2 separate regions of the Homo sapiens genome follow, and region 2 is linked to region 1. The links come from fine-mapping of genetic effects on gene expression. A gene starts in region 1. The other region holds a variant in brackets. All regions are shown on one strand. Distances are from middle to middle.

Evidence for each region. PIP is the estimated chance that this variant, and not a neighbour inherited with it, causes the effect.
Region 2: its variant is the best candidate, but not a certain one, in a credible set for the expression of MASP2 in tibial nerve (GTEx, PIP 0.72).

The regions. Positions count from the first base shown.
Region 1 is chr1:11,043,335-11,057,812 of GRCh38, reverse strand. MASP2 (MBL associated serine protease 2) reads left to right here and starts at 10,574. Exons shown (of 11, transcript NM_006610.4): 1 at 10,574-10,610; 2 at 10,694-10,922; 3 at 11,080-11,257; 4 at 12,274-12,405; 5 at 14,278-14,474. The coding sequence starts at 10,606. SRM (spermidine synthase) reads left to right here. Exons shown (of 8, transcript NM_003132.3): 4 at 1,056-1,209; 5 at 1,719-1,802; 6 at 1,887-2,032; 7 at 2,729-2,851; 8 at 2,928-3,224. The coding sequence ends at 2,948. RefSeq lists enhancers at 4,399-4,648, 4,979-5,058, 5,666-5,745, 11,237-12,069.
Region 2 is chr1:11,002,988-11,018,502 of GRCh38, reverse strand. TARDBP (TAR DNA binding protein) reads right to left here and starts at 5,849. Exons shown (of 6, transcript NM_007375.4): 1 at 5,760-5,849; 2 at 4,538-4,787; 3 at 1,496-1,659. The coding sequence starts at 4,775. RefSeq lists silencers at 4,531-4,777, 6,187-6,416 and enhancers at 5,139-6,106, 5,817-6,146. The variant A/C (reference allele first, on the strand shown) is at 7,641.

The DNA.
Region 1 (14,478 bases):
AGGAAGAATCTGTCTCAAAAAAAACAAACAACAAAAATAGAGACATCAAAGGATGGTCTGATGAAGGCAAGACAGGGGCTGGGGGACAGGAGAAGGCAGGGTTCCTGTGAATGCATGGGGGGTGGTCAGGGCAGGCCTCCAGGAGGTGGCGTTTGAGCTGAGACCTCAGTGAAAAGCAGGTGGCCGTGTGCAGGGAGGGGGAGGTTCTCCTGGCCAGAGGTTGGAATTGCATCCTTCTAAAATAGGAAACAGGCCAAGCGCTGGTGGCTCACACCTGTAATCTCAGCACTCTGGGAGGCTGAGGCGGGCAGATCACAAGGTCTCTACTAAAAATAAAAAAAAAAAAAAAAAAATGGCCCAGCTTGGTGGCGTGCGCCTGTAATCCCAACTACTCGGGAGGCTGAGGCAGGAGGGTGCAGTGAGCTGAGATCGTGCCACTGCACTCCAGCCTGGGCAGCAGAGCAAGACTGTCTCGAAAAATAAATAAAATAGGAAGCGACAAGAAAGCCACTCAGATGGGGCGATTTGGTCTGGAAGGAGGGGGTAGGGATGGGAGAGAGGAGCCCAAGCCGCCGGCAGGAGCCAGCTCTCAAGGAGAAATGGAGGTACCAGAGTTCTCCCCGCTTTACACATTATAAACTGAGGTTCCCAAAAGGGGCCAGGTGTGGTGGCTCACAGCTGTAATCCTAGCACTTTTGGAGGCCGAGGTGGGAGGATCGAGGAGTTCGAGGCAACATAGGGAGACTCTATCTCTACCAAAAATTTAAAAAGTAGCCAAGTATGATTGAACACACTTGTCCCAGCTACTCAGGAGGCTGATGGGGGAGGATCACCTGAGCCCCGGAGGCCGAGGGTGTAGTGAGCCATGATCGATGCCACTGCACTCCAGCCTGGGCCACAAAGTGAGACCCTGTCTCAAAAAAAAATAATAAAAAAAAGGGAAGGGGTTGGCCAAGGCGGCTTGCCTGTGAGGCACTTGGAGAGTCCCACGTGGCTGTGCTGGCTCCAGGTCCCCCAGCCCCTTGGCCCAGACTGGTCCCTCCCATCCCCTCCAGGATGTCATCCAAGTCTCCAAGAAGTTCCTGCCAGGCATGGCCATTGGCTACTCTAGCTCGAAGCTGACCCTACATGTGGGTGACGGTTTTGAGTTCATGAAACAGAATCAGGATGCCTTCGACGTGATCATCACTGACTCCTCAGACCCCATGGGTAAGCAGTGGATGGGCCCCAGGGTTTTCTGGCAGCTGCAGGTCTGGAGGTCAGCCTCCCCCAGGCCTTCAGAGTAAAGGATAGAGCGGCCTCCCACCCCCCGAACTAGAGCTGTACTTTTCCCTTCTCATTTGTTACCTGCCCTCTGAAACATGGCTCAGGACAGTAGGCAGGAGCCAGGCGACTGCCCAGATTCACAAGCTGGTGACCAAGGAGAGTGGGGATCTGGCATTGGGACACTGAGGACCCTGTGTCCTCTTCAGCCTCCCCTCTGCTCTGAAGTGGTCAGCACTGGAGTGGGGGCAGGTTCTAGTCTTGAACGAAGGCCTAGGTTAGAGGTTCCTCTGCTGTGGTGCCAATGAGACTCCCCCAAGAATGGGATTCAGGTGTGGATCCCCCACAGACCTGGGTTCAGATCCTGGCTCTGGCCACCTGGTAGCTGTGTGGGTGACAGTGGCCCTGGAGGTCACAGCCAGACTGTTCAGTGTGTCTCCCTCTGTCTTCCCCAGGCCCCGCCGAAAGTCTCTTCAAGGAGTCCTATTACCAGCTCATGAAGACAGCCCTCAAGGAAGATGGTGTCCTCTGCTGCCAGGGTGAGCCACAGGCCTGGAGCACTGGGGCGGGGCGGGGTGGGGCAGGGCAGGCCCTGCCGGATGCTGATGCTTAGGGGCCCCCAGGCGAGTGCCAGTGGCTGCACCTGGACCTCATCAAGGAGATGCGGCAGTTCTGCCAGTCCCTGTTCCCCGTGGTGGCCTATGCCTACTGCACCATCCCCACCTACCCCAGCGGCCAGATCGGCTTCATGCTGTGCAGCAAGAACCCGGTGAGATGGGGGTGTCTGGGGGTGGGGGTTGGGGGGAAGGTGGGCATAAATAGAGATCCCTGCCCCTGCCGGGCGCGGTGGCTCACACCTGTAATCCCAGCACTTTGGGAGGCTGAGGCGGGCAGATCACAAGGTCAGGAGATCGAGACCATCTTGGCTAACACGGTGAAACCCCGTCTCTACTAAAAATACAAAAAAATTAGCCAGGCATGGCAGCGCGCGCCTGTAGTCCCAGCTGCTGGGGAGGCTGAGGCAGGAGAATGGCGTGAACCCGGGAGGCGGAGCTTGCAGTGAGCCGAGATTGCGCCACTACATTCCAGCCTGGGTAACAGAGGAAGATTCCGACTCAAAAAAAAAAAAAAACCCTCCCCAGGCCAGGTGCGGTGTCTCATGCCTGTAATTCCAGCATTTTGGGAGACCAAGGTGGGCGGATCACTTGAGGTCAGGAGTACAAGACCAGCCTGACCAACATGGAGAAACCCCATCACTACTCAAAATACAAAAAAAAAAAAAATTAGCCGGGCGTGGTGGCGCGTACCTGAGGCTGAGGCAGGAGAATCACTTGAACCTGGGAGACAGAGGTTGCAGTGAGCTGAGATGACGCCACTGCACTCCAGCGTGGCAACAGTGAGACTCCGTCTCAAAAAAAAAAAAAAAAAAGTGCCCCCCCTGATGTGCCCCTGGCCCGGTCCCCAGAGCACGAACTTCCAGGAGCCGGTGCAGCCGCTGACACAGCAGCAGGTGGCGCAGATGCAGCTGAAGTACTACAACTCCGACGTGCACCGCGCCGCCTTTGTGCTGCCCGAGTTTGCCCGCAAGGTGGGTGGCCTGCGGGGCTGGGTGGTGGGACCCAGGGACCCAGAGCGCCCTCCTGACTGGCCTCATGTCCCTCCAGGCCCTGAATGATGTGAGCTGAGCCCAGGCGCCACCACTGATGCCACCCAGGACCTCGGACCTTGGAGCCTGCGGGGTGCCTCGGCCCCTCCAGCCCCGGGCCGGACCTCCTGCTGGCTCTCGCCCACCAACCAAGTGTTACAAGCCCCAGAATGCTGCCCGGCCTGCCCTGCTGGGCGGACTGTCTGTGTGTCTGTCTCTCTGGCGTTCCACCTCCAAGCCTATACCAGCTGTGTACAGCGCCATCTCTCTGCCTTCTGTTGCCCCTCACTCACCAAACACGTGTATTTATAGCAAAGATTGGAGTCCTGTGTCTCCTGACCTTGGCTGGGCCCAGGCAGGGCCACATTCACCATTGGGTGCCTCTGGGGTGAGGGTCTGCAGAGGCCTTGCTGGCTGACCCCCAAGTGTCTGCTGCAGGGCTGAGGCTGCAGGCGGGCCATCGTGGATAGCCTGGGGCACAGAGGGTCACCGCAGTCGTCACGTGGGACCCAGAGCTGTCCTGGGAAGCTGACTTAGCTGTCCTTTTACCAAGCCCTTCACAAGGCCACTGGTGACAGCCCCCCAGGGCAGTGGGGTGGGTGAGATCAGGGTGGGGCTGCCCGGGAGCATTCTCAGAAAAATTGGGGACACTCACAGGTGTAAGTCAGGTCCCATCCAGGTACTCCAGGGCAAATACAGGAAGGGGTGGCGGGGCTGGTTACCTTCGGCCTTTTTAAGCACATCAGGAGCTTAACACTGGCCCAGTGACTGTGCCCTGACTCCACCCGGCATTCAGACTTGGGTTCAAATTCCCACCATGCCCCGCCCCCTATGTGGACAAATTGAGAAAGCAAGTGTGGGCACCCCACCAGGGACTGCGAGGACCAGGGCTGTCCCCTCTCCAAGGTGCTGAACTCCCGCCTTCCAGGACCCAACGGTGGTGGGAGGACAGGAAAGGAACCCTCTTTGCATGGGCCTGAGTTGCCAACCCCTTTCCCCACCCTGGGCAGGGGCTGGGCTAGCGGACGCATCAGGGAGGGAGGCCCCACTCCCAGCCGAGGCAGCCACCTTGGAGCCCTAACTCACCCGGGTATGTTTTCTGGGACACCAGAGTAAGGGGGATTCAGTTTCGCCATCAACTCTGGCTTCAGGCCAGTCATAGCCCTCCAGTCTCCACCTGCCCCCCACTCCCCACCCCTGTGAATTCACCAGACTGAGCACCTTCAGACCTTTGGCCCATCAGCAGATCTGACCTCAGGCTAACTTCTCCAGGCCACCCTGACCTTTCAAATCAGTCTGGGGAGCTGGCGTCTGCCCCCGGGCCTTCATAGTCTCAGGGAAGGCCCGAGAGGAGCAGCTGGCGTTCAGGTGGGTTGGCAGGGGCTATTTCTGGAGCCTGACAGGCCAGGCTGCAGCTGGGTGGGCCAGGCACTTTCATTTAACCTTCACAACCACCTGCCCGCCAGGCATTGTTCCTGCTGCACAGAGGCAAGGCGATGTGCCTAAGGACACACAGCCAATCAGCAGCCACCGTCCGACGCCACTCCACCCTGCTCACCCCAGGGTCTCCTGCATCTCAGGCCAGGCACTCTGGAGGTCCCGGCATGGATGGTCTCTCTGACATCTACTCCCTGGCCAAGATCCAGGCAGGGAATGCTGCCCCCTTAGAGGGACGATCCCGTGACCCCCTAAGTGTGAGGGCCTTTCCCCAAGGGCTCTGGAATCGGTCCAGATCTCAATCTCAACTCTGCCTCCCTCAGCTCTGTGACCTGCAGCCACGCAGGCCCTCTGCCGGTTACCCCGATGTCAGAGGGGGAGCACACCGTCCCTGTTAGGAAGCTTTGGTGAGAAGCACGTGCGACGCAGCCCTCAACCAGTGCCGGCCCGAGAGAAGGGAGGGTGGACCAGGTTGTGGAAACAGCCGGGGCCATCTGGGAGGCAGGAGATCTGGGAAGCAGCTGCAGGAAGATGAAGTTGCCGGCAGCGTAGATCCTGCGCCTCCCCAGCCTATAGTCTATACACACACCTGGCCGCCGCGAAGAGGCATGCACCAGGGATGGGGGCAAGCCTGAGCCCCACGACTGGGTGGGTGCGATGCAGCCCAGGATGATCTGCTGAAACAGAAACAGCCTTGATGAGGACACAACCTGGGTCCCCCAGCGTCCCAGAAATCTTTGGGCCACAAACAGGCCCAGTGTGGCATGGGGAATAACATCAATCCTATCTAGACTTTTCAAAATTTGATTTATGATAATTAGCCAGGCCCCTGGCTTAAGGATTCATGGGTCCGTGCGGCTTGTCAGAAGAAAAATCACAGTCCTCCTCCCGCAGCCCCTTTCCCTCTTGGAGCTGATTATTTGGGGTTTATCTTCTGTAGTAGAAGAAGAAATCGATTTGGTGTTTGTCCCCAGTTCCTGTCACGGAGCCGCTAACACCTTTGGAAATTCCTGATCGGTAGGCGTGTCTTGTCGTTCATTATATGCTCTGTTAGAGAACTCCCGAGTTTATGCTAATGCAGTGGTCTAGGGTAGAGCCCCGGGGGAGCCTCAGGGTGGGGCTGGTAAGTAAGACCTAAAGACTGAAGGGTTGGGACTTTCACCCCACCCAATGACTGCCAGGAAAGGATCAGGAGGGCTCTGGAGATGAAGCTGTACAAATTCATGAACAATGAGCGCAGCCCCGGGTGGTGGCTCATGCCTGTAATCCCAGCACATTGGGAGGCCGAGGTGCGCAGATCACTTGAGGCCAGGAGTGTTGGGAGGGCAACATGGCAAAACCTCGTCTCTACTAAAAACACAAGCATTATCCTGGTGTGGTGGCGCACGTCTATAACCCCAGCTACTCGGAAGGCTGAGGCAGGGGAATCACTTAAACCCAGGAAGCGGAAGTTGTGAAACTGCCTTTGCCAAATTATGACTGAGACAGTGAAAGAGACCTAACTTAGCCAACTCCATCTTGCTTCTAGCCTCCAAGCTGTCCTTCTTCATTCCTGGGCGTAGGCTGAACTAACGTTGGGAGAAATTTAGTTTATAGTTTAAACAAAGACGGTCACAGCCCTTTCTCAAAGCAGATGTTCTTGCCTGGGGACTAGACTGTCTTTGTAGGATTAACATTAGCCACAAGATTAGAAATTATGGTTTAGAGTCATGCAGCTGGAGGCTACGAGATTCCCACCCTCCCTAAACTGCTCCTAAGATCAGTGCTTGAGATATTTTGCAGATCCTGCCTTGATGGATCAGCCGGCACCACCCAGATGGATAAACGGGCTCATCTGATCTTGTGACCCCCACCCAGGACTCAGTGCAAGAAAACAGCTCTGACTCCGACTGCCTGTGATTTCATCTCTGACCAGTCAGCACTCCTGGCTCACTGGCTTCCCCCTACCCACCAGGTTATCCTTAAAAACTCTACTCCCCGAATGTTCGGGGAGACTGATTTGAGTAATAGTAAAATTCTGGTCTCCCGCACAGCCAGCTCTGCGTGAATTACTCTTTCTCTATTGCAATTCCCCTGTCTTGATGAATCAGCTCTGTCTAGACAGCTGGCAAGGTGAACCCCTTGGGCGGTTACAGTTACAGTGAGCCGAGATCGCGCCACTGCGCTCCAGCCTGGGTGACAGAGCAAGACTCTGTCTTAAAAAAAAAAAGGAAAAAAAAGAAAAAAACCAGTTAAAGAAAATAAAAGGAAAAAGCAAAAGAAAAAATAAAAGAATAATTCTGGACAGAAATAGAGTTATAATTTAGCATTGATCAGGCTGCACTCTGGCCCGCCTCCATGTAACTGACAGTCAGGTAGCACCGCGCCTGACCAGGCTTTTGTTTAAGAATTGCTTGAGTTAGGGCACTGTGGCTCATGCCTGTAATCCCAGCACTTTGGGAGGCCGAGGCGGGCGGATCACCTGAGGTCAGGAGTTCAAGACCAGCCTGACCAACATGGTGAAACGTGGTCTCTGCTAAAAGTACAAACATTAGCCGGGTGTGGTGGCGGGCACCTGTAAGCCCAGCTACTGGGGAGGCTGAGGCAAGAGAATTGCTTGAACTTGGGAGGCGGAGTAGCTGGGCTTACAGGCACGTCCATGCTGGTCTCAAACCCCTGACCTCAAGTGATCCACCCGCCTCGGGCTCCCAAAGTGCTGGGATTAAGGCTGGGCCCAGTGTCAAGAGTTCAAGACCAGCCTGACCAAATGGAGAAACCCCATCTCTACTAAAAATACAAAATTAGCCGGGTGTGGTGGTGCATGCCTGTAATCCCAGCTACTAGGGAGGCTGAGGCAGGAGAATCACTGGAACCCAGGAGGCGGAGGTTGCAGTGAGCCGAGATCGCGCTATTGCACTCCAGCCTGGGCAACGAGCAAAACTCCATCTCAAAAAAAAAAAAAAAAAACAAACCACCAAAGTGCTGGGATTCCAGGTGTGAGCCACCGCATCTGGCCTTATGATAACATTTTATCTCCTACACAGCTTCTTGTTTTCCCTGGAGGTTCTTTTTTTGTTTGTTTCTCATTTACTTAGTTTTCAATAAATTTATCACTAATTTGGCCCCAAATTTTTCACCAATTCTCTAATGCTCCTTGGACTCAACAGGTGTTCTGTCATCGTCCCCTTTCTGGAGAAGCTGTCCAGAGCCTTCTCACCGCCCCCAATGGAGTCCCTTAGTGAATGGCATCTCTTGGACCTTATGTCTTCCTATTGAAACCACCCTTGCAAAATTATGACATAACCGACCCCATCCTGCTCCTGACCTCCAAGCTGACCCTGCTCATTCCTGGGTGTAGGCCCAGCTGACCGGCGGAGGAATTTAGAGTTTAACTTGAAACAAGAATAATAATAGTTCTCCCTAAAACTACTCTCTTCCCTGTTCGGGGGCTGAACCACCACCTTGGTAAGATTTTTTTTTTTGAGACGGAGTCTTGCTCTGTCACCCAGGCTGGAGTGCAGTGGCGCGAGCTTGGCTCACTGCAAGCTCCGCCTCCCGGGTTCACGCCATTCTCCTGCCTCAGCCTCCCAAGTAGCTGGGACTACAGGTGCCCACCACCACACCCGGCTAATTTTGTATTTTTAGTAGAGACGGGCTTTCACCGTGTTAGCCAGGATGGTCTCAATCTCCTGACCTCGTGATCCACCCACCTCAGCCTCCCAAAGTGCAGGGATTACAGGTGTGAGCCACCGTGCCCGGCCTCCACCTTGGCAAGATTAATGAGCAGTCACAAGACAGGTGTAGTTTCTTTCTTTCTTTTTCTTTTCTTTTTTTTTTTAAGATGGAGTCTCGGCTGGACATGGTGGCTCACGCCTGTAATCCCAGCACTTTAGGAGGCTGAGGCTGGCGGATCACAAGGTCAGGAGTTCGAGACCAGCCTGGCCAACATGGTGAAACCCTGTCTCTACTAAAAATACAAAAATTAGCCTGGCGTGTTGACACATGCCTCTAATCCTAGCTACCTGGGAGGCTGAGGCAGCAGAATCGCTTGAATCCAGGAGGTGGATGCTGCAATGAGCTGAGATCGTACCACTGCCCTCCAGCCTGGGACAGAGCGAGACTCCGTCTATTTTTTTTTTTTTTTTTTTTTTTTTTTGAGATGGAGTCTCGCTGTGTCCCAGGCTGGAGTGCAGTAGCACAATCTTGGCTCATTGCAGCCTCCAGGTTCAAGCGATTCTCCTGCCTCAGCCTTCCAGGTAGCTGGGATTACAGGCACGCAACACCATGCCCAGCTAAGTTTTGTATTTTTAGTAGAGATGAGGTTTAACTCCAAAATAATTCTTTTTCCTGATCTTTTGCATGTGATTTACTATTTGATTTTTCTCTTTCTCTTTGTTTGTAAAACATAATTATTCTCTCCAGTGTTTTTAAATATGTGTAAAGCTGTATTAATATTTTTATCTCCTTTTCTGGGCACTTGGGGCACACTTTCGATCAGTATCACGTTCTTCAGTTCTGGGAAATTTTCTTGCATTATTATTATTGCTATGTATGTATTTTTTGAGACAAAATCTTACTCTGTCACCCAGGCTGGAGTTCAATGGCATGAACATGGCTCACTGCAACCTTGAGACCTCCTGGGCTCAAGCGATTGTCCCATCTCAGCCTGCCAAGTAGCTGGGACTAAAGGTGCATGCCACCATGCCTGGCTAATTTAAAAAAATTTTTTTTTTTTTTAGAGACAAGGTCTTGCTATGTTGCCCAAGCTGGTCTTGAACTCCCGGTCTCAGGCGACCCACCTGCCTCAGCCTCCCAGCCTCCTGGGATTATGGGCAGGAGTCACTACACCCAGCCAGAGTCCCGGTCTCTAAAAGAAAATAGGCCAGGCATGGTGGCTCACGCCTGTAATCCCAGCACTTTGGGAGGCTGAGGCGGGTGGATCACCTGTGGTTGGGAGTTCGAGACCAGCCTGACCAACATGGAGAAACTCCGTCTCTACTAAAAATACAAAACTAGCCGGACGTGGTGGCGCATGCCTGTAATCCCAGCTACTCGGGAGGCTGAGGCAGGAGAATTGCTCGAACCCCGGAGGCAGAGGTTTGGTGGCTCACACCTGTAATCCCAGCACTTTGCGAGGCTGAGGCAGGTGCATCGCTTTGGCTCAGGAGTTCAAGACCAGCCTGGGCAACACAGGGAGACCCCCATCTCTACAAAAAACAAAAACAAATATAAAGGGGATAAAAAAAAAAAAAAGACAAGACATGAATCCATGAGGACAGAGTGTGGAAGAGGAAGCAGCAGCCTCAAAGTTCTGGAAGCTGGAAGAACAGATAAACAGGTGTGAAATAACTGCCTGGAAAGCAACTTCTTTTTTTTTTTTTTTTTTTTTGAGGTGGAGTCTCACTCTGTCGTCCAGGCTGGAGTGCAGTGGTGCGATCTCGGATCACTGCAACCTCCGCCTCCCAGGCTCAAGCAATTCTCCTGCCTCAGCCTCCCGAGTAGCTGGGATTATAAGTGCGCGCTGCCACACCTGGATGATTTTTGTATTTTTAGTAGAGATGGGATTTCACCATGTTGGTCAGGCTGGTCTCAAACTCCCAACCTCGTGATCCACCCACCTTGGCCTCCCAAAGTGCTGGGATTACAGGTATAAGCCACCGAGCCCAGCCAAAAGCGACTTCTAAGCCTGCAAGGGAATCGGGAATTGGTGGCACCAGGTCCTTCTGACAGGGTTTAAGAAATTAGCCAGCCTGAGGCTGGGCACGGTGGCTCACACCTGTAATCCCAGCACTTTGGGAGGCTAAGGCAGGTGGATCACCTGAGGGCAGGAGTTCAAGACCAGCCTGACCAACATGGAGAAACCCCATCCCTACCAAAAATAAAAAATTAGCCAGGTGTGGTGGTGCTCGCCTGTAATCCCAGCTACTTGGGAGGCTGAGGTGGGAGGATTGCTTGAACACAGGAAGTAGAGGCTGCAGTGAGCTATGATTGCAGCACTGCACTGAAGCCGGGGCAACAGAACAAGATCCAAAAAAAAGGGAGGGGTGAGGGGCAGAGCCAGGATTTGTTTCCAGGCTGTTGTTACCTAGGTCCGACTCCTGGCTCCCAGAGCAGCCTGTCCTGCCTGCCTGGAACTCTGAGCAGGCTGGAGTCATGGAGTCGATTCCCAGAATCCCAGAGTCAGGGAGGCTGGGGGCAGGGGCAGGTCACTGGACAAACAGATCAAAGGTGAGACCAGCGTAGGGCTGCAGACCAGGCCAGGCCAGCTGGACGGGCACACCATGAGGTAGGTGGGCGCCCACAGCCTCCCTGCAGGGTGTGGGGTGGGAGCACAGGCCTGGGCCCTCACCGCCCCTGCCCTGCCCATAGGCTGCTGACCCTCCTGGGCCTTCTGTGTGGCTCGGTGGCCACCCCCTTGGGCCCGAAGTGGCCTGAACCTGTGTTCGGGCGCCTGGCATCCCCCGGCTTTCCAGGGGAGTATGCCAATGACCAGGAGCGGCGCTGGACCCTGACTGCACCCCCCGGCTACCGCCTGCGCCTCTACTTCACCCACTTCGACCTGGAGCTCTCCCACCTCTGCGAGTACGACTTCGTCAAGGTGCCGTCAGGACGGGAGGGCTGGGGTTTCTCAGGGTCGGGGGGTCCCCAAGGAGTAGCCAGGGTTCAGGGACACCTGGGAGCAGGGGCCAGGCTTGGCCAGGAGGGAGATCAGGCCTGGGTCTTGCCTTCACTCCCTGTGACACCTGACCCCACAGCTGAGCTCGGGGGCCAAGGTGCTGGCCACGCTGTGCGGGCAGGAGAGCACAGACACGGAGCGGGCCCCTGGCAAGGACACTTTCTACTCGCTGGGCTCCAGCCTGGACATTACCTTCCGCTCCGACTACTCCAACGAGAAGCCGTTCACGGGGTTCGAGGCCTTCTATGCAGCCGAGGGTGAGCCAAGAGGGGTCCTGCAACATCTCAGTCTGCGCAGCTGGCTGTGGGGGTAACTCTGTCTTAGGCCAGGCAGCCCTGCCTTCAGTTTCCCCACCTTTCCCAGGGCAGGGGAGAGGCCTCTGGCCTGACATCATCCACAATGCAAAGACCAAAACAGCCGTGACCTCCATTCACATGGGCTGAGTGCCAACTCTGAGCCAGGGATCTGAGGACAGCATCGCCTCAAGTGACGCAGGGACTGGCCGGGCGCAGCAGCTCACGCCTGTAATTCCAGCACTTTGGGAGGCCGAGGCTGGCTGATCATTTGAGGTCAGGAGTTCAAGGCCAGCCAGGGCAACACGGTGAAACTCTATCTCCACTAAAACTACAAAAATTAGCTGGGCGTGGTGGTGCGCACCTGGAATCCCAGCTACTAGGGAGGCTGAGGCAGGAGAATTGCTTGAACCTGCGAGGTGGAGGCTGCAGTGAACAGAGATTGCACCACTACACTCCAGCCTGGGCGACAGAGCTAGACTCCGTCTCAAAAAACAAAAAACAAAAACGACGCAGGGGCCGAGGGCCCCATTTACAGCTGACAAAGTGGGGCCCTGCCAGCGGGAGCGCTGCCAGGATGTTTGATTTCAGATCCCAGTCCCTGCAGAGACCAACTGTGTGACCTCTGGCAAGTGGCTCAATTTCTCTGCTCCTTAGGAAGCTGCTGCAAGGGTTCAGCGCTGTAGCCCCGCCCCCTGGGTTTGATTGACTCCCCTCATTAGCTGGGTGACCTCGGGCCGGACACTGAAACTCCCACTGGTTTAACAGAGGTGATGTTTGCATCTTTCTCCCAGCGCTGCTGGGAGCTTGCAGCGACCCTAGGCCTGTAAGGTGATTGGCCCGGCACCAGTCCCGCACCCTAGACAGGACGAGGCCTCCTCTGAGGTCCACTCTGAGGTCATGGATCTCCTGGGAGGAGTCCAGGCTGGATCCCGCCTCTTTCCCTCCTGACGGCCTGCCTGGCCCTGCCTCTCCCCCAGACATTGACGAGTGCCAGGTGGCCCCGGGAGAGGCGCCCACCTGCGACCACCACTGCCACAACCACCTGGGCGGTTTCTACTGCTCCTGCCGCGCAGGCTACGTCCTGCACCGTAACAAGCGCACCTGCTCAGGTGAGGGAGGCTGCCTGGGCCCCAACGCACCCTCTCCTGGGATACCCGGGGCTCCTCAGGGCCATTGCTGCTCTGCCCAGGGGTGCGGAGGGCCTGGGCCCTGGACACTGGGTGCTTCTAGGCCCTGCTGCCTCCAGCTCCCCTTCTCAGCCCTGCTTCCCCTCTCAGCAGCCAGGCTCATCAGTGCCACCCTGCCCTAGCGACTGAGACTAATTCTAACATCCCACTGTGTACCTGGTTCCACCTGGGCTCTGGGAACCCCTCATGTAGCCACGGGAGAGTCGGGGGTATCTAGCCCTCGTTCCTTGGGACCTGGTTCCCTGGTTCCCTGCACTGTGGGACGGGCCAGTGCTCTGGGGCGTGGGCAGCCCCACCTGCTGGCGCTGACCCTGCCTCCCCCGACTCGGTTTCTCCCTCTCGGTGTCTCTCCTTGCCTCTCTGATCTCTCTTCCAGAGCAGAGCCTCTAGCCTCCCCTGGAGCTCCGGCCTGCCCAGCAGGTCAGAAGCCAGAGCCAGCCTGCTGGCCTCAGCTCCGGGTTGGGCTGAGATGGCTGTGCCCCAACTCCCATTCACCCACCATGGACCCAATAATAAACCTGGCCCCACCCCACCTGCTGCCACGTGTCTCTGGGGTGGGAGGGTCGGGAGGCGGCGGGGTGCGCTCCTCTCTGCCTACCCTCCTCACAGCCTCATGAACCCCAGGTCTGTGGGAGCCTCCTCCATGGGGCCACAGGCTCCTTGGCCTCACCCCCCGTTTTGAAGATGGGGCACTGAGGCCCGGAGAGGGGCAAGGCCTCGCTCGAGTCCAGGTCCCCAGAGGCTGAGCCCAGAGTAATCTTGAACCACCCCCATTCAGGGTCTGGCCTGGAGGAGCCTGACCCACAGAGGAGACACCCTGGGAGATATTCATTGAGGGGTAATCTGGTCCCCCGCAAATCCAGGGGTGATTCCCACTGCCCCATAGGGCACAGCCACGTGGAAGAAGGCAGGCAATGTTGGGGCTCCTCACTTCCTAGAGGCCTCACAACTCAAATGCCCCCCACTGCAGCTGGGGGTGGGGTGGTGGTATGGGATGGGGACCAAGCCTTCCTTGAGGGATAGAGCCCAGCCCAACACCCCGCCCGTGGCAGCAGCATCAGCTGTTCCAGCGAGGAAGGAGAGCACCAGACTCAGTCATGATCACTGTTGCCTTGAACTTCCAGGAGCAGCCCCCAGGGCAGGGGTCAGACCTGGGGAAAGGGGGTGATGAGAGACCCTTCTTCCGGATGGTTCCTCCAGGAACCCAGGGGGCTGGCTGGTCTTGGCTGGGTTCGGGTAGGAGACCCCTGATGAATAAACTTGGGAATCACTGGGGTGGCTGTAAGGGAATTTAGGGGAGCTCCGAAGGGGCCCTTAGGCTCGAGGAGATGCTCCTCTCTTTTCCCGAATTCCCAGGGACCAAGGAGAGTGTCCCTTCTTCCTCCTTCCTGTGTGTCCATCCACCCCCGCCCCCCGCCCCGGCAGAGCCTGGTGGAACTCAGTGCTCTAGCCCCTACCCTGGGGTTGCGACTCTGGCTCAGGACACCACCACGCTCCCTGGGGGTGTGAGTGAGGGCCTGTGCGCTCCATCCCGAGTGCTGCCTGTTTCAGCTAAAGCCTCAAAGCAAGAGAAACCCCCTCTCTAAGCGGCCCCTCAGCCATCGGGTGGGTCGTTTGGTTTCTGGGTAGGCCTCAGGGGCTGGCCACCTGCAGGGCCCAGCCCAACCCAGGGATGCAGATGTCCCAGCCACATCCCTGTCCCAGTTTCCTGCTCCCCAAGGCATCCACCCTGCTGTTGGTGCGAGGGCTGATAGAGGGCACGCCAAGTCACTCCCCTGCCTTCCCTCCTTCCAGCCCTGTGCTCCGGCCAGGTCTTCACCCAGAGGTCTGGGGAGCTCAGCAGCCCTGAATACCCACGGCCGTATCCCAAACTCTCCAGTTGCACTTACAGCATCAGCCTGGAGGAGGGGTTCAGTGTCATTCTGGACTTTGTGGAGTCCTTCGATGTGGAGACACACCCTGAAACCCTGTGTCCCTACGACTTTCTCAAGGTCT
Region 2 (15,515 bases), 40 kb after region 1:
AAAAAGAGAGATGGGGCCAGGCGCGGTGGCTCACACCTGTATTCCCAGTGCTTTGGGATGCTGAGGAGGGTGGATCGCTTGAGCACAGGAGTTCAGGACCAGCCTGGGCAACACAGCAAAACCCTGTCTCTACAAAAAATACAAAGATTAGCCAGGTGTAGTGGCATGCACCTGTAGTCCCAGCTACTTGGGAGGCTGAGGCACAAGAATAGCTTGAACCCAGGAGGTGGAGGTTGCAGCGAGCCTACATTGCACCACTGCACTCTAGAGCCTGACTGACAGAGCCAGACCCTGTCTCCAAAAAGAAAAGAAAAAAAGAGAGGCCAGGCACAGTAGCTCACGCCTGTAATCCCAGCACTTTGGGAGGCGGAGGCGGGCAGATCATGAGGTCAGGAGATCGAGACCATCCTGCCTAACACGGTGAAACCCCATCTCTACTAAAAATACAAAAAATTAGCCAGGCGTGGTGGCAGGCACCTGTAGTCCCAGCTACTTGGGAGGCTGAGGCAGGAGAATGGCATGAACCCGGGAAGCGGAGCTTGCAGTGAGCCGAGATCATGCCACTGCACTCCAGCCTGGGTGACAGAGCAAGACTCCGTCTCAAAAAAAAAAGAAAAAAGAGAAACTGAGTCTGGATATGTTCGCCAAGGTGGCCTTGAACTCCTGGCCTCAAGCAACCCTCCCACCTCAGCCTCCCAAAATGCTGGGATTACAGGCATGAGCCACCACAACAGGATTTTAACAGAATGTCTTAGAATGAATTCAAAGATAAACTAAATTTAATGTTTACAAATTTTAAATGAAATGGAAAAACCTCCCATTAGTTTAATATATAAAGAAAAGCTATTGTCACCTACTTCCCTTAAGCCTTCATGCAACAGTAGGATTTTACAATATCAAAGGCAATAACATAGGGTACAACATATATGTATAAATATAACAAATATTGGAAGTATCATCTGTGTAACAGAAAGGACAGTGCCATTAAAATAACAAGAATGTGGCCGGGCGCGGTGGCTCACACCTGTAATCCCAGCACTTTGGGAGGCCAAGGCAGGTGGATCACTTGAGGTCAGGAGTTCAAGAACAGCCTGGCCAACGGGTGAAACCCTGTCTCTACTAAAAATACAAAATTAGCCAGGCATGATGGCGGGCACCTGTAATCCCAGATACAGGAGGCCGAGACAGGAGAAATCACTTAAACCCGGGAGGTGGAGGTTGCAGTGAGCCAAGATCGTGCCACTGCACTCCAGCCTGGGCAGCAAAGTGAGACTTGGTCTCCAAAAAAAAAAAAAAAAAAGAAAGGTAACAAGATTGTGGCTGGGCATGGTGGCTCAGCACATTGGGGTCGAGGCAGGAGGACAGTATGGGCCCAGGAGTTTGACGCCAGAACCTAGGGAACATAGTGATACCCCATCTCTATTTATACCAATAAATAAATGCTAGATACTCATTCACTGGTAAAGAAAAACTGTTTGATGCAATCGAAGTTTACCTGCACCATAAGAACTTCTCCAAAGGTACTAAAATACTCTTTCAGGTCCTGTTCGGTTGTTTTCCATGGGAGACCCAACACTATTAAATCGGATGTTTTCTGGACTGCTCTTTTCACTTTCACTGCTGATGAAGCATCTGTCTCATCCATTTTTCTTTTGTTATCTAAATAAAACGAGCAGAAACCTTTTAGAAATCTTCACTTAGCACTTCTTTAAAAACACTACCTCCTACATCTAGAAATGAGAAGCAAAAAGAAGACTCTAAGAAGAATAAGACACTGAAAACTTGGCAAGAAGTGATGTTTGCTCTAGAGGACAGAATAAAGGCTTAAGTTTAGTGTCTGAGGTGCTTTTCTGGTGCAAATTCAGTGATTTCCAAGTTTGTTTTTTGTAGCATTTCCGGATTACAATCTCTCCCTCTCAAAAGGTTTATCAAAACAAAAATAATTCTACTTCACTTTGACTTTAAATATCAGCAACTTGTATATCCTGATGAAGATTTAACTTTTATCTTTCCTAAACATTCAACAACAAATACACAACTTTTGTAATAAAACAGAAAACCAGGTACAGTGGTGTGTATGCCTGTAAGTTCCAGCAACTCAGGAGGCTGAGGAGGAAGGACGACTTGAGTCCAGGAGTTTGAGGCTGCAGTGTGCCTATGAATAGCCACTGCAATATGCCTGGGCAACAGAGCGAGAGCCTCCATCTCTAATTTCAAAAAAGAAAAAGAAACCAAAAGTTTGGCTTACTTAAAAAAACATAACTGGCTGGGCGCGGTGGCTCACACTTGTAATCCCAGCACTTTGGGAGTCTGAGGCAGGTGGATCACAAGGTCAGGAGTTCAAGACCAGCCTGGCCAAGATGGTGAAACGCCGTCTATACTAAAAATAAAGAAAAAATTAGCCGGGCGTGGTGGCAGGTGCCTGTAATCCCAGCTACTTGGGAGGCTGAGGCAGGAGAATCGCTTGAACCCAAGAGGCGGAGGTTGCAGTGAGCCAAGATCGTGCCACTGCACTCCAGCCTGGGCGACAAGGGCGAGACTTCGTCTAAAAAATAAATAAACAAATAAAAATAAATAAATAAAAATACAAAAATTAGCCAGGCGTGGTGGCAGGCACCTGTAATCCCAGCTACTCATGAGGCTGAGGCAGAGAATTGCTTGAACCTGGGAGGCGGAGGTTGCAGTGAGCCAAGATCGTGCCACTGCACTCCAGCCTGGGCGACAGAGTGAGACTGTCTCAAAAAACAAACAAACAAACAACAACAAAAAAACCCCCCAAATAACCTCAACCTTAGGTTATTTAGAAGAGAAGGGGAGATAATTTTTTTTTTTTGAGACGGAGTCTCATTCTGTCACCTAGGCTGGAGTGCAGTGGCGCAATCTCCCCTCTCTGCAACCTCTGCCTCCCGGGTTCAAGTGATTCTCCTGCCTCAGCCTCCCGAGTAGCTGGGATTACAGATGTGAGCCACCATGTCCAGCCTGGGGAGATAAATTAAATGACATTTAAAAAATTTTTTTTGAGACGGTGTCTCGCTCTGCTGCCAGGCCAGAGAGCAGTGGCACGATCTCAGCTTACTGCAATCTCCACCTCCCGGTTCAAGCAATTCTCCTGCCTCAGCCTCCCAAATAACTGAGACTACAGGCGCGAACCACCACGCCTGGCTAATTTTTGAATTTTTAGTAGAGACAGGGTTTCACCATGTTGGCTAGGGTGGTCTTGAACTTCGGACCTCAGGTGATCTGCTTGCCTCAGCCTCCCAAAGTGCTGGGATTACAGGTGTGAGCCATTGCACCGAGCCTGACATTTTAAATTTGAGTAAATATTAATCTATACCCACTGGCTGAAGAAACAGCATACTAAAAACCCCGAGTTTACATTATCAATTTTTTTTTTTTTTGAGACGAAGTCTTGCTCTGTCACAGGTTGGAGTGTAGCGGCGCGACCTCAGCTTAAAGTAATCTCCGCCTCCCAGGTTCAAGCGATTCTCCTGCCTCAGCCTCCAGACTAGCTGGGACTACAGGCCCCCGCCACCACGCCAATTTTTGTTTTCGTTTTTTTTTGTTTTGAGACGGAGTTTCGCTCTTGTTGCCCAGGCTGGAGTGCAATGGCACAATCTCTGCTCACTGCAACCTCTGCCTCCCGGTTCAAGCGATTCTCCTGCGTCTGCCTCCTGAGTAGCTAGTATTACAGGCACCCACCACCACATCCAGAGATTTTGTGTTTTTGATAGAGATGGGGTTTCATCATGTTGGCCAGGCTCATCTCAAACTCCTGATCTCAGGTGATCCACCTGCCTCGGCCTCCCAAAGTGCTGGGATTACAGGCATGAGTCACCGTGCCTAGCCCTAAAGTTTTCCTAGACATGTAAAAGGGTGTCTTGCATACTGACCAAATTTGATGGACTTTGTTGCAATACCAAGTTATAATAAAAGGAACACACAGACAGATCGACTACTAACAGCACACTACTTCAAAATGCTGAAATTAGGTATTTCCTTGGCACACTTCTTAAACTTCATGCTTCCTTTTCTTAGATTTAGAACATCATTGATAAGAGGCAGAGAGAAGGATAAGACCAGAACCTCGAAATTGTAATTGGAACTGCACTAATTCAAGATTTGGCTACTCCAACTGTTTGCTCATTTAAGGGAAAAAATGAACTCAGATTTGCTGAATGAATGATGTAACACCAAAAGGACAATGATCAAATCCAAACACTGAAGCACTTCAGAAGAATCTATTTACAACAATGATTTATGTACAAAACATTCTTAGTGATTCCTGAAATTTATCATCAACTTGGCAAAGTTTATTCAGATATTTTTTAAATACATTGTTTTCTCTTTTAAAATGATCTACAATCCCCAGTTTCCATAAATTTAGACTCGTGGTCTTCCAAACTTGTCTAACACTGAAGTTCAAGGAAATACTTAAGTTTCAGGAGACATTCTGCCACCAAAAGAGGCTAAGATCCATGGATGAGACACACACCTGAACACACTTCAGCATGATTACAAAAACCAAATGGTAACAAACCTTTTGGATAGTTGACAACATACACCAGATTTCCCCAGCCAGCATCTGGGGCATGCAGAATTCCTTCTACCAGCCGGACACCTCTCATACACTGAGACACTGGATTCCTGTAGCGAAGCCCACACGCCCCTGGAAACTGGGCTGTAACCGTGGAGAGCAGCACCGTCCCATCGTCTTCCGATGGTATTTCAATGGGCTCATCGTTCTCATCTTCGGTTACCCGAATATATTCAGACATCTTTTACTTTTCCTAAAGAGAAAAGAGATATGAATGAACAACATTCATGTCAGAATAACTGTTTCCTTATAATGATAATACCCAAACCATGTCAGAGTTCTGACTTCCAGAAAAATGCTTGTCTGGATTCGTATATGCATTGGTTATCCCTGAAAAATGACGAGGTGAAGGTAAGGGTAGTGATTTCCTATCAAAATGTGATGCCTCGCCAGTTCATTCATTCAAAAAACTTTCCCTGAAGGCTTATGATGCGTCAGGTACTGAAACTGTAACTGTGAGTCCAACGTGGCTTGCTGGTTACAAGCTAGGGTATGCAAGGGAACAATAAACAGTAGCTATTTTATGACAATCGGGTTAGTCGTTAAGTAATCCTGAAGGCAGAGGAGGAGCCTAACTGGCTGAGGCATGGGCGTGATAGGTCCCAGTCGATTTTCCTAAGCAAGCGATCCATCAGCTGAACCTGAAGACTGAATATGGGCAGTGAACCAGGTGTAAAGAACAGGAGAAAAGTTTCCCTCTGTTCCTCATTTTGGGGCTTCCGGGGGCTCTGCGAGCCCGAGCCCCAAGGCCCGCGGCGACAGGTCCTGGCGGTGCCGGCCGTCGCCTCCCAGAAGCCCGCGCGTGCCAGCCGAGGGAGGAGTTTCTCGGCGCGGCCCGGGGTGGGGCGCAGGAGCACCAGGCCCAAGCTGGCAGCGTCCCTCGAAGTACAAAGTACCGAAGGCTCCGGCACTGTCCGGGTCCGGGGCCAACCTCCGCCTCAGGCTACGCGGCACCGCGGGCCCGGCCCCCCGTTTCGGCGCCACCGGCCTCCCCGTGCCAGGACCTAACGACGCTCCCGCGCGAGCCCGCTCGGGCAGGACTAGGCCCGGTCTCACGGCTGACTTCCCGGGGCAGGGTCCGAAGCCGCTGCGTCTGCCTCGGGCCGCCCCAATGCAGAAGCCGAGGCACCTACGGCGTCCTCAGTGAGAAGGCTCCGCGACTCACCCGCTAGGCCGCTGCTGGGAAGCCCGACAGGGACACCGAAGCAGCGACGGACCCAAGCGCAGCCCAGCCACCGCTTCGCTCCCACAAAATGGCGCTAGGGCCGCCTCCTCCCCCCGCCCACCGGCGTCCTCTCCCACCGGTTGCCTGTCCAGAGGTGGAAGGCACCGACGAGAGCCACGATGACCCTCTCCCCAGGGACTCGGGCTGCCTCCTGGAAATTCAAGCCTACAGAGAAGCTCTGAAAGCTAAAATAAAACCAGGACCTAGGCCTGAAAAGCTGAAGATTGAAAAAAGTGTGGCTGTATAGGAGCTGACCTCCCCCCACGTAACGTAGCAGATGGTTTCGGCCGACCAACCGCCGGCCCAGGTCTCGGTCGGAGCTCGCGCACTTTCAAAGCGCGCGAGAGTAGCACAGAGTCTCGGCCAGCGAGGGCGGGGCGGGGCGGGGCCTGGAGGGGGCGGGGCTCGGGATCCCGGGCCGAGTCCACCTGGGAGGCAGGATAAGGCCTGGACCCCTTTTCTGAAAGGCAACCTAGTGCGTCTTCTCCTCCCTCCGCCAGCCCACCTCCAAACCTGGAAACAATAACTTTGTTCTAAATAATAGCAATGATAAGGCTACTTTGTGCCAGGTACTTTCTGAGTATTCACATATTTAATAGCCCAAACAGTTTTGTGTAGCAGGAGCTATTGATATTCATTCTGCGGGTGAGGAAACTGAGGCACAGAGAGATCAAGTGTCTTGCTTAAAGTGACGCAAGGATTAGCCGGGCGGTAGTGGCGCGCGCCTGTAGTCCCATCTACTCGGGAGCCTGAAGCAGGAGAATTGCTTGAACGCGGTAGGCGGAGGTTGCGGTGAGCCGAGATCGCGCCACTTCACTCCAGTCTAGGCGACAGAGTGAGACCCTGTCCTCCAGCCCCTCCCCCCAAAAAAATGTCACCCAAGGAATAAATGGTAGACCTGGGATTTGAATCTCGAGGCACAAAATGCTAACTTGTTCTGGCTCCAGCCCTTTAATAATAATAATAATACAGTACTTCATCTATTTTAAGGCACACTTTTTGTTTCACTTTTTTTTTTTTTTTTTTTGAGACGGAGTCTCGCTCTTGTCCCCCAGGCTGGAGTGCAGTGGCGCAATCTGCAGCTCACTGCCACTTCCAACTCCTAGGTTCAAGGGATAGCTGGGATTATAGGCGTGCAAAGACACCATGCCCGGCTAATTTTTGTATTTTTAGTAGAGACAGGGTTTGGCCATGTTGGCCAGGCTGATCTCGAACTCATGGCCTCAAGTGATCCGCCTGCCTCAGCTCCCCAAAGTGCTGGGATTACAGGCACGAGCCACCTTTCTTTTCTATCTTTTCTTTCCTTTCTTTCCTTTCCTTCCCTTCCTTTCCTCCCTTCCCTCCCTTTCCCCCCCTTCCCTCCCTTCCCACCTTCCTTCCTCCCTACCTCTCTCTCTTTCTCTCTCTCTCTCTTTCTTTTCTCTTCCTTTTTTTCAGACTCCCTCTGTTGCCTAAGGTGGAGTGCAGTGGCACAATCTCAGCTCACTGCAACCTCCGCCTCCCCGGTTCAAGCAATTCTCCTGCCTCAGCCTCCTGAGTAGTTGGGTCTACAGGCATGCACCACCATGCCCGGCTAATTTTTGTATTTTTAACCCCTGTTGGCCAGGCTGGTCTCAAACTCCTGACCTCAGGTGATCCGCCCACCTCGGCCTCCCAAAGTGCCACCACGCCCGGCCTTTGTTTCACATTTCTTTTTTTTTTCTTTTTTCTTTTTTTTGAGATGGAGTCTCGCTCTTTTGCCCAGGCTGGACTGCAGTGGCGCTATCTCGGCTCACTGCACGCTCCGCCTCCCGGGTTCACTCTATTCTCCTGCCTCAGCCT[A/C]CTGAGTAGCTGGGACCACAGGCGCCCGCCACCACGCCCGGCTAATTTTTTTGTGTTTTTAATAGAGACGGGGTTTCACCGTGTTAGCCAGGATGGTCTCAATCTCCTGACCTCGTGATCCGCCCGCCTCGGCCTCCCAAAGTGCTGGGATTACAGGCGTGAGCCACCGCGACCGGCCAATGTTTCACATTGCTGAAGTCAGTATGTGATTTCAGTTCCAGTTCCAGTTGATGATGATGTGTCATAGTTTAACTGGCAACTATTTATGTTTCTTTGTATATACATGTATCACACTCAATGAAATACAGTTACAAGTGTTTACACAAAATACTTTATTTATTTATTTAAGATGGGGTCTCACTCTGTCACCCAGGCTAGAGTGCAGTGCAGTGACCTCGGCTCACTGCAACCTCTAACTCCAGGGGTCAAACGATCCTCTCACCTTAGCCTCCGGAGTAGCTTGGACCACAGGTGCACACCACCACACTCAGCCAATTTTTTATATTTTTTGTAGAGACAGGGTCTTGACATGTTACCCAAGCTGGCCTCCAACTCCTGAGCTCAAGCGATCCATCTGCCTCAGCCTCCCAAAGTGCTGGGATTACAGGCGTGAGCCACCATACCCAGCAGAGAAGTCGGTTTTATCACTCCCATTTTACAGAAGAAAAACCTGAGGCTCAGAGACCATATGACAGGCCTGAGGTCATACAGTTGCTCAAGGATGTCACCTAGCCCATAAATTGCTGTCCCAGGTTGGTCAGACCCTAAACCTCTGCACTATGTCCACCACACTGGCCACTTTCTGTCACAAGACTGAGACCGAGGTATTTAGTGCGGGTAGTGCTGTGGAGTCCTGGACACTAGCTCCAAGTGGGCAGAGCTGGGTATGCAGAAGTTCCTAGAGACAGGTCACACAGGAACATGACCCCAAAGGCTGGCCCTTCTCCTAAGAAGTTTTCAGGCTAGTTGGGAGGACAAGCAAACACTGTCTCAAAGAAGGTAAGTAACTCAGGAAGATAATTATAAGGCCAGAGGGAGACTGGACCACAGATCTTCCTGCTCCTATCTCAGTTGTCTCTGGGATTCAGCTTTACAGCACTGATTGTCAAAAGTTGTTTGAAACACAACATTTTTTTTTTTCAAGACAGAGTCTTGCTCTGTCGCCCAGGCTGGAGTGCAGTGGCACAATCTTAGCTCACTGCAACCTCTGCCTCCCGGGTTCAAGCTATTTTCCTGCCTCAGCCTCCCAAGTAGCTAGGACTGCAGGCGTGTACCACCCCACCTGGCTAATTTTTGTATTTTTCGTAGAGACGAGGTTTCACCATGTTGGCCAGGCTAGTCTCCAACTCCTGACCTCAAGCAATCCTCCCGCCTCAGCCTCCCAAAGTACTGGGATTACAGGCATGAGCCACTGTGCCTGGCCCAGGCCCTGGTTTTCAACTGGGTCACTTGGGGACTTACCTTCTCCCCTTCCATCAACCCCCTTGAATTCTCCCAGCTCATCAGCTCCATGAGGCAAACAGGACACAGCTCCACAACATTCCTGAAAACTGAAAGAAGCCTGGGCGCGGTGGCTCACGCCTGTAATCCCAGCACTTTGGGAGGCCGAGGTGGGTGGATCACCAGAGGTCAGGAGTTCAAGGCCAACATTGTGAAACCCCGTCTCTACTAAAAATACAAAAAATTAGCAGGGCATTGTGGCAGGCACCTGCAATCGCAGCTACTCCAGAGGCTGAGACAGGAGAATCGCTTGAACCCGGGAGGCAGAGGTTGCAGTGAGCCAAGATCACACCATTGCACTCCAGCCTGGGCAACAAGAGTGAAACTCTGTCTCAAAAGAAAAAAAAAAAAAAGACAAAACTGAAAGAAATACTAGGGCAATAATGATACATAGATTTATTTATTTATTTATTTATTTTTTGAGACGGAGTCTTGCTCTGTCACCCAGGCTGGAGTGCAGTGGCCCAATCTCGGCTCACTGCAAGCTCCACCTCCCGGGTTCACGCCATTCTCCTGCCTCAGCCTCCCAAGTAGCTGGGACTACAGGTGCCCGCCACCACGCCCGGCTAATTTTTTGTATTTTTAGTAGAGACGGGGTTTCACCGTGTCTCAGTCTCCTGAGCTCGTGATCTGCCCGCCTCCGCCTCCCAAAGTGCTGGGATTACAGGCGTGAGCCACTGTGCCCGGCCCTATTTATTTATTTATTTATTTATTTATTTATTTATTTATGTAGGTGTGCACCACCACATCTGGCTAATTAAAAAAACTTTTTTGTAAAGACAGGGTCTCATTATGTTGCCTAGGCTGGTTATGAATTCCTTGCCTCAAGTGATCCTTTCACCTTGGCATTCCCACATGCTAGAATTACAGGCACATACCACCACCCAGCCAATAAAGATATTTAAATAAAAGTAACTTTAGGGCCGGGAGTGGTGGCTCACACCTGTAATCCCAGCACTTTGGGAGGCCGAGGCGGGCGGATCATGTGAGGTCGGGTTCAGCCTGACCAACATGGAGAAACCCTGTCTCTACTAAAAATACAAAATTAGCCGGGCGTGGTGGCGCATGCCTCTAATCTCAGCTACTTGGGAGGCTGAAGCAGGAGAATCACTTGAAACCAGGAGGCGGAGGTTGCAGTGAACCAAGACTGAGACATTGTACCCCAGCCTGGGCAACAAGAGCGAAACTCCATCTCAAAAAAAAAAAAGTAGCTTTAGGCTAGGCACAGTAGCTCACACCTGTAATCCCAGCACTTTGGGAAGCCGAGGCAGACAGATCACTTGAGCCCAGGAGTTCGAGACCAGCCTGGGCAACATGGTGAAACCCCATCTCTACAAAAAATGCAAAATTTAGCCGGACCTGGAGATGTACACCTGTGGTTACAGGTACTGGAGAGGCTGTGGTGGGAGGATCACTTGAGCCCAGGTGGCAGAGGTTGCAGTGAGCCAAGCTGTTGCACTCCAGCCTGGGCGACAAAGCAAGTAATAAAGTAATAAAGTAATAAAAATCTTTATTGTATCAAGATTAATTTCCTCTTCATCTCCATGTTTTTAGCTCCTGCCAAAATTAGAAGCTGCCTTCCCAAATAGTCTAGGTCTAATTTAGATTTTAAAAACAAATTTTTTACATTGAAATAATTTAAAATTTATGATAGAGTTCCAAGAATAGTGCAAAGCACTGCTGTGTTCCCTTCATCCAGATTCATCAACTGATTACATTATGTCACATTTGGTCTATCACTCACTCTCTCTAGACATGTAAATTAATAACATGGCTGGGCGCAGTGGCTCACGCCTGTAATCCCGCACTTTGGGAGACCAAGGTGGGCAAATCACCTCAGGTCTAGGAGTTCAAGATCAGCCTGGCCAACATGGTGAAACCCCATCTCTACTAAAAATACAAAAATTATCTGGGCATGGTGGCTCATGCCTGTATTCCCAGCTACTTGGGAGGCTGAAGTGGGAGAATCACTTGAACCCAGGAGGCAAAGGTTGCAATGAGCTGAGATGACGCCACTGCACTCCAGCCGGGGCAACAAAACGAGACTCCATCTCAAAAAAAAAATTAATTAATAACATATATGTTCTTACTTATCCATTGAGATTAATGACAGACTGCGTGCCCCTTTGCCTCTAAAAAGTTTGTCTTTCCTAAGGACAAAGACATTCTCTTACACAATCACAATACTGTTATCAAATTCGGGATTTTAACATTAATGTAACACTCTTTTCTAATATACAACCATTTTAAAATTTGGCCCTTCCCGCCCCCGCAGAAAAAGAAACAAAAACAGGTTGCTGTGGTGGCTCACACCTGTAATCCCAGCACTTTAGAAGGCTGAGGTGGGTGGGCAGATCCCTTGAGCCCAGGAGTTAGAGGCCTAGCCTGGGCAACATGGTGAAACCCCATCTCTACAAAAAAAAAAAAAAAAAAATAAGCCGGGCATGGTGGTTCACACCTGTAGTCCCAGCTCCTTGGGTGGTTGAGGTGGGAGAATCACCTGAGCCTGGGGAGGTCGAGGCTGCAGTGAGCAGTGATCACATCACTGCACTCCAGCCTGGGTGACAAGAGTGAGACCCTGTCTCAAGAAAAAAAAAAAAAAGAAAGAAACAAAAACAAAACATGTCCTTTGAATAATTTTTCTTTTTTTTTTTGAGATGGAGTCTCGCTCTGTCGCCCAGGCTGGAGGGCAGTGGCGCGATCTTGGCTCACTGCAAGCTCCGCCTCTCGGGTTCACGCCAATCTCCTGCCTCAGCCTCCTGAGTAGCTGGGACTACAGGCGCCTGCCACCACGCCCGGCTAATTTTTTTGTTTTATTTTTAGTAGAGACAGGGTTTCATCGTGTTAGCCAGGATGGTCTTCATCTCCTGACCTTGTGATCAGCCCGCCTCGGCCTCCCAAAGTGCCTTTGAGTAATTTTTCTCTCTGATCTAGGATCCAATCCAGGAACATTGTATTCCATCATTGTGGCTCTTTCAACTCCTTCAATCTAGAACACTTTCTCAGCCTTTCTTTGTCTTTCATGCCATTGGCACTTTTGAAGAGTTCAGGCTTGCTTTGTTTTTGGAATGTCCCTCAATTTGGGGTTGCCTGATGTTTCCTCATGATTTGATTCAGATTATAAGTGTTTGGCCGGGCGCAGTGGCTCACACCTGTAATCCCAGCACTTTGAGAGGCCGAGGCAGGCAGATCACAGGGTCAGGAGATCGAGACCATCCTGGCTAACACAGTGAAACCCCGTCTCTACTAAAAATACAAAAATTAGCTGGGCACGTGCAGTGGTAGGCGACTGTAATCCCAGCTACTCGGGAGCTGAGGCAGGAGAATCACTTGAACCCGCAAGTTAGAGGTTGCAGTGGGCCGAGATCGTGCCATTGCACTCCAGTCTGGGTGACAGAGTGAGACTCCGTTTCAAAAAAAAAAAAAAGAAAGAAAAGAAAGTACATTTGCAGGGCGCTGTGGCTCATGCCTGTAATCCCAGCACTTTGAGAGGCCGAGGTGGGCGGATTGCAGTTGGAGACCAGCCTGGACAACATAACGAGACCTGTCTCTACAAAAATTAGCCAGGTGTGGTGGCATGCACCTGTAGTTCCAGCTACTCAGGAGGCTGTGGTGCCAAGAGGTAGAGGTTGTAGTGAGCCAAGACTGCACTATTGCACTCCAGCCTGGGCAACAGAGTGAGACCCCATCTCCCCCAATTACCCACCAAAAAGAAAGTAAATTGCAGACATCACAGCATTTCACTCCTAAATTCTTCATCCTGCTTCTCCTAAGAACAAGAATATTGTCCTTCATAACCACAATGATAATCATAAGAGAAAATGAATAATTATTTCCTGCTATCATCTAATACCTGGTCCACATTCAAATTTCTACAATTGTTCCCCTCAAATGTCTTTTATAGCTGTTTTCTTTTTCTTTTCTTTCTTTCTTTCCTTTTCTTTTTTTTTTTTTTTTTGAAACAGGTCTCACTCTGTCACCAAGGCTGGAGTGCAGTGACACAATCCTGGCTCACTGCAGCCTCGACCTCCGGGACTCAGATGATCCTCCCACCTCAGTCTCCTGGATAGCTGGGGCTACAGGTGCATCCCACCACACCAGGATATTTTTTTTGTATTTTTTATAGAGATGAGGTTTCACCATGTTGCCCAGGCTGGTCTCAAACTCCTGGGGTCAAGTGATCTGCCCGCCTCGGCCTCCAAAAGTGCTGGGATTACAGGTGTGAGTCCCTGCGCCCAGCCTGTATTTTCTTAAAATAGGATCCAATTAAGCTTCATGCATTACATTTGCTTAGTATGTCCATTAATCTTTTTAAAATCTAGAATAATCTCCCTATACAAGATACTGACTTTTGGAAGAGCTCTGGTCAGGTAGTTTGTAGAATGTCGCACCTTCTGAATTCATCTGGTTGCTTCCCTGTTGTATTACTCAGCACACTCCTCTATTCCCTATTTTTCCTGCATACTGGAAGTTAGATCTAAAGACACGATCACATCCAGGTTAAACACAATGGCCACAACACTTCTTGGGCAAAGCCTTGAATATCCCAATGCTCCTTATCAAGAGCCACATAATGTCTGGCTGTTTCACTTTTAGTGATGCTAAATTTGATCTCTCAATTAAGACTGTGACCACTGGCCGGGTGCGGTGGCTCACGCCTGTAATCCCAGCACTTTGGGAGGCCGAGGTGGGTGGATCATGAGGTCAGGAGATCGAGACCATCCTGGTTAACACGGTGAAACCCTGTCTCTACTAAAAATACAAAAAATTAGCCAGGTGTGGTGGTGGGCGCCTGTAATCCCAGCTACTCGGGAGGCTGAGGCAGGAGAATGGCGTGAACCCGGGAGGTGGAGCTTGCAGTGAGCCGAGATCACGTCACTGCACTCCAGCCTGGGCGACAGAACGAGACTCCGTCTCAAAAAAAAAAAAAAAAAAAAGACTGTGACCACTAGATCTCTCCACGGAAAAGATGTATTTCCCCCCTTTGCAAAATTCCAGTAATCTCTAGATGATACATTGGCACAGGGCAAACATCCCATTTCACTACATCCTTTCACCTAATGGTTTAGCATCCACTGATGATCCTTGCCTTACTCTGTTATTTTATTGGGGGTTACAAAATGGAAAGTTTTATTTGCTTTTATTTTTTATTTTATTTATTTACTTATTTATTTTTGAGACGGGGTCTTGCTCTGTTGCCCAGGCTAGAGTGCAGTGGCACGATCTTGGCTCACTGCAACCTCTGCCTCCCAGGTTCAAGTGATTCTCCTGCCTCAGCCTCCCAAGTAGCTGGGACTACAGGCACCTGCCACTGCACCCAGCTAATTTTTGTATTTTTAGTAGAGATGGGGTTTCACCATCTTGGCCAGGCTGGTCTCAAACTCCTGACCTCGTGATCTACCCGCCTTGGCCTCTCAAAGTGCTGGGATTACAGGGGTGAGCCATCACGCCCAGTCTGTTTTTATTTTTATTTTTTTAGGGATAGGGTCTCACTCTGTCGCTCACCTTGGAGTGCAGTGGTGCAATCATGGCTTACCACAGCCTTGGCCTCCTGGGCTGAAGCGATCCTCCTGCCTCATCTTCCAGAGTAGCTGGGGCTACAAGTGCACCACCATGTCTGGCTAATTTTTTTTATTTTTAAAATTTTTTGTAGAGATGGGGTCTTCCTACGTTGCCCAGATTGGTCTCATGTTCTTGGCCCTAAGCGATCCTCCCGTCTCGGCCTCCCAATGTGCTGGGATTACTGGCATGAGTCAACTCTTCTCCGGTACGTCTATATTCTTTTGTAAAGAATTTTCCTTCATCACCTGGAGATGAACCACAGTTCCTCCTAACTGCTTAATCCTTTATCAATTTTCAGGATAGACTGACACAATAATCACCTCCAATAGTGACAAATTAATTGTATTTTTTTCTTGTTTAAAAATAGTCACGGCTGGGTGCAGTGGCTTAGGCCTATAATCCTAGCACTTTGGAAGCTGAGGCAGGTAGATTGCTAGAGCCCAGGAGTTCAAGACCAGCCTGTACAACATAGGGAGACCCCATCTCTACAGAAAATTTAAAAACTAGCCAGATGTGGTGGTGCACACCTGTAGTCCCAGCTACTTGGGAGGCTGAGGTGGGAGAATCAGTTGAGCCGGGAGGCGAAGGTTGCAGTGAGCCAAGATCATGCCACTGCACTCCAGCCTAGGAGACAGAGTGAGACCCTGTCTCAAAACTAATAATAATAATAATAATCACTATGAACTCTTGCATTTTTATTTATTTAGTGTTTCAAAATAGGTTATAGTCATTAATGTTTCTAATGATCACATTATTTTACTCAGGCTCTGTGGAAACCCTTTAAACTGACTCTAAGTCCATTGGATGTGTCTC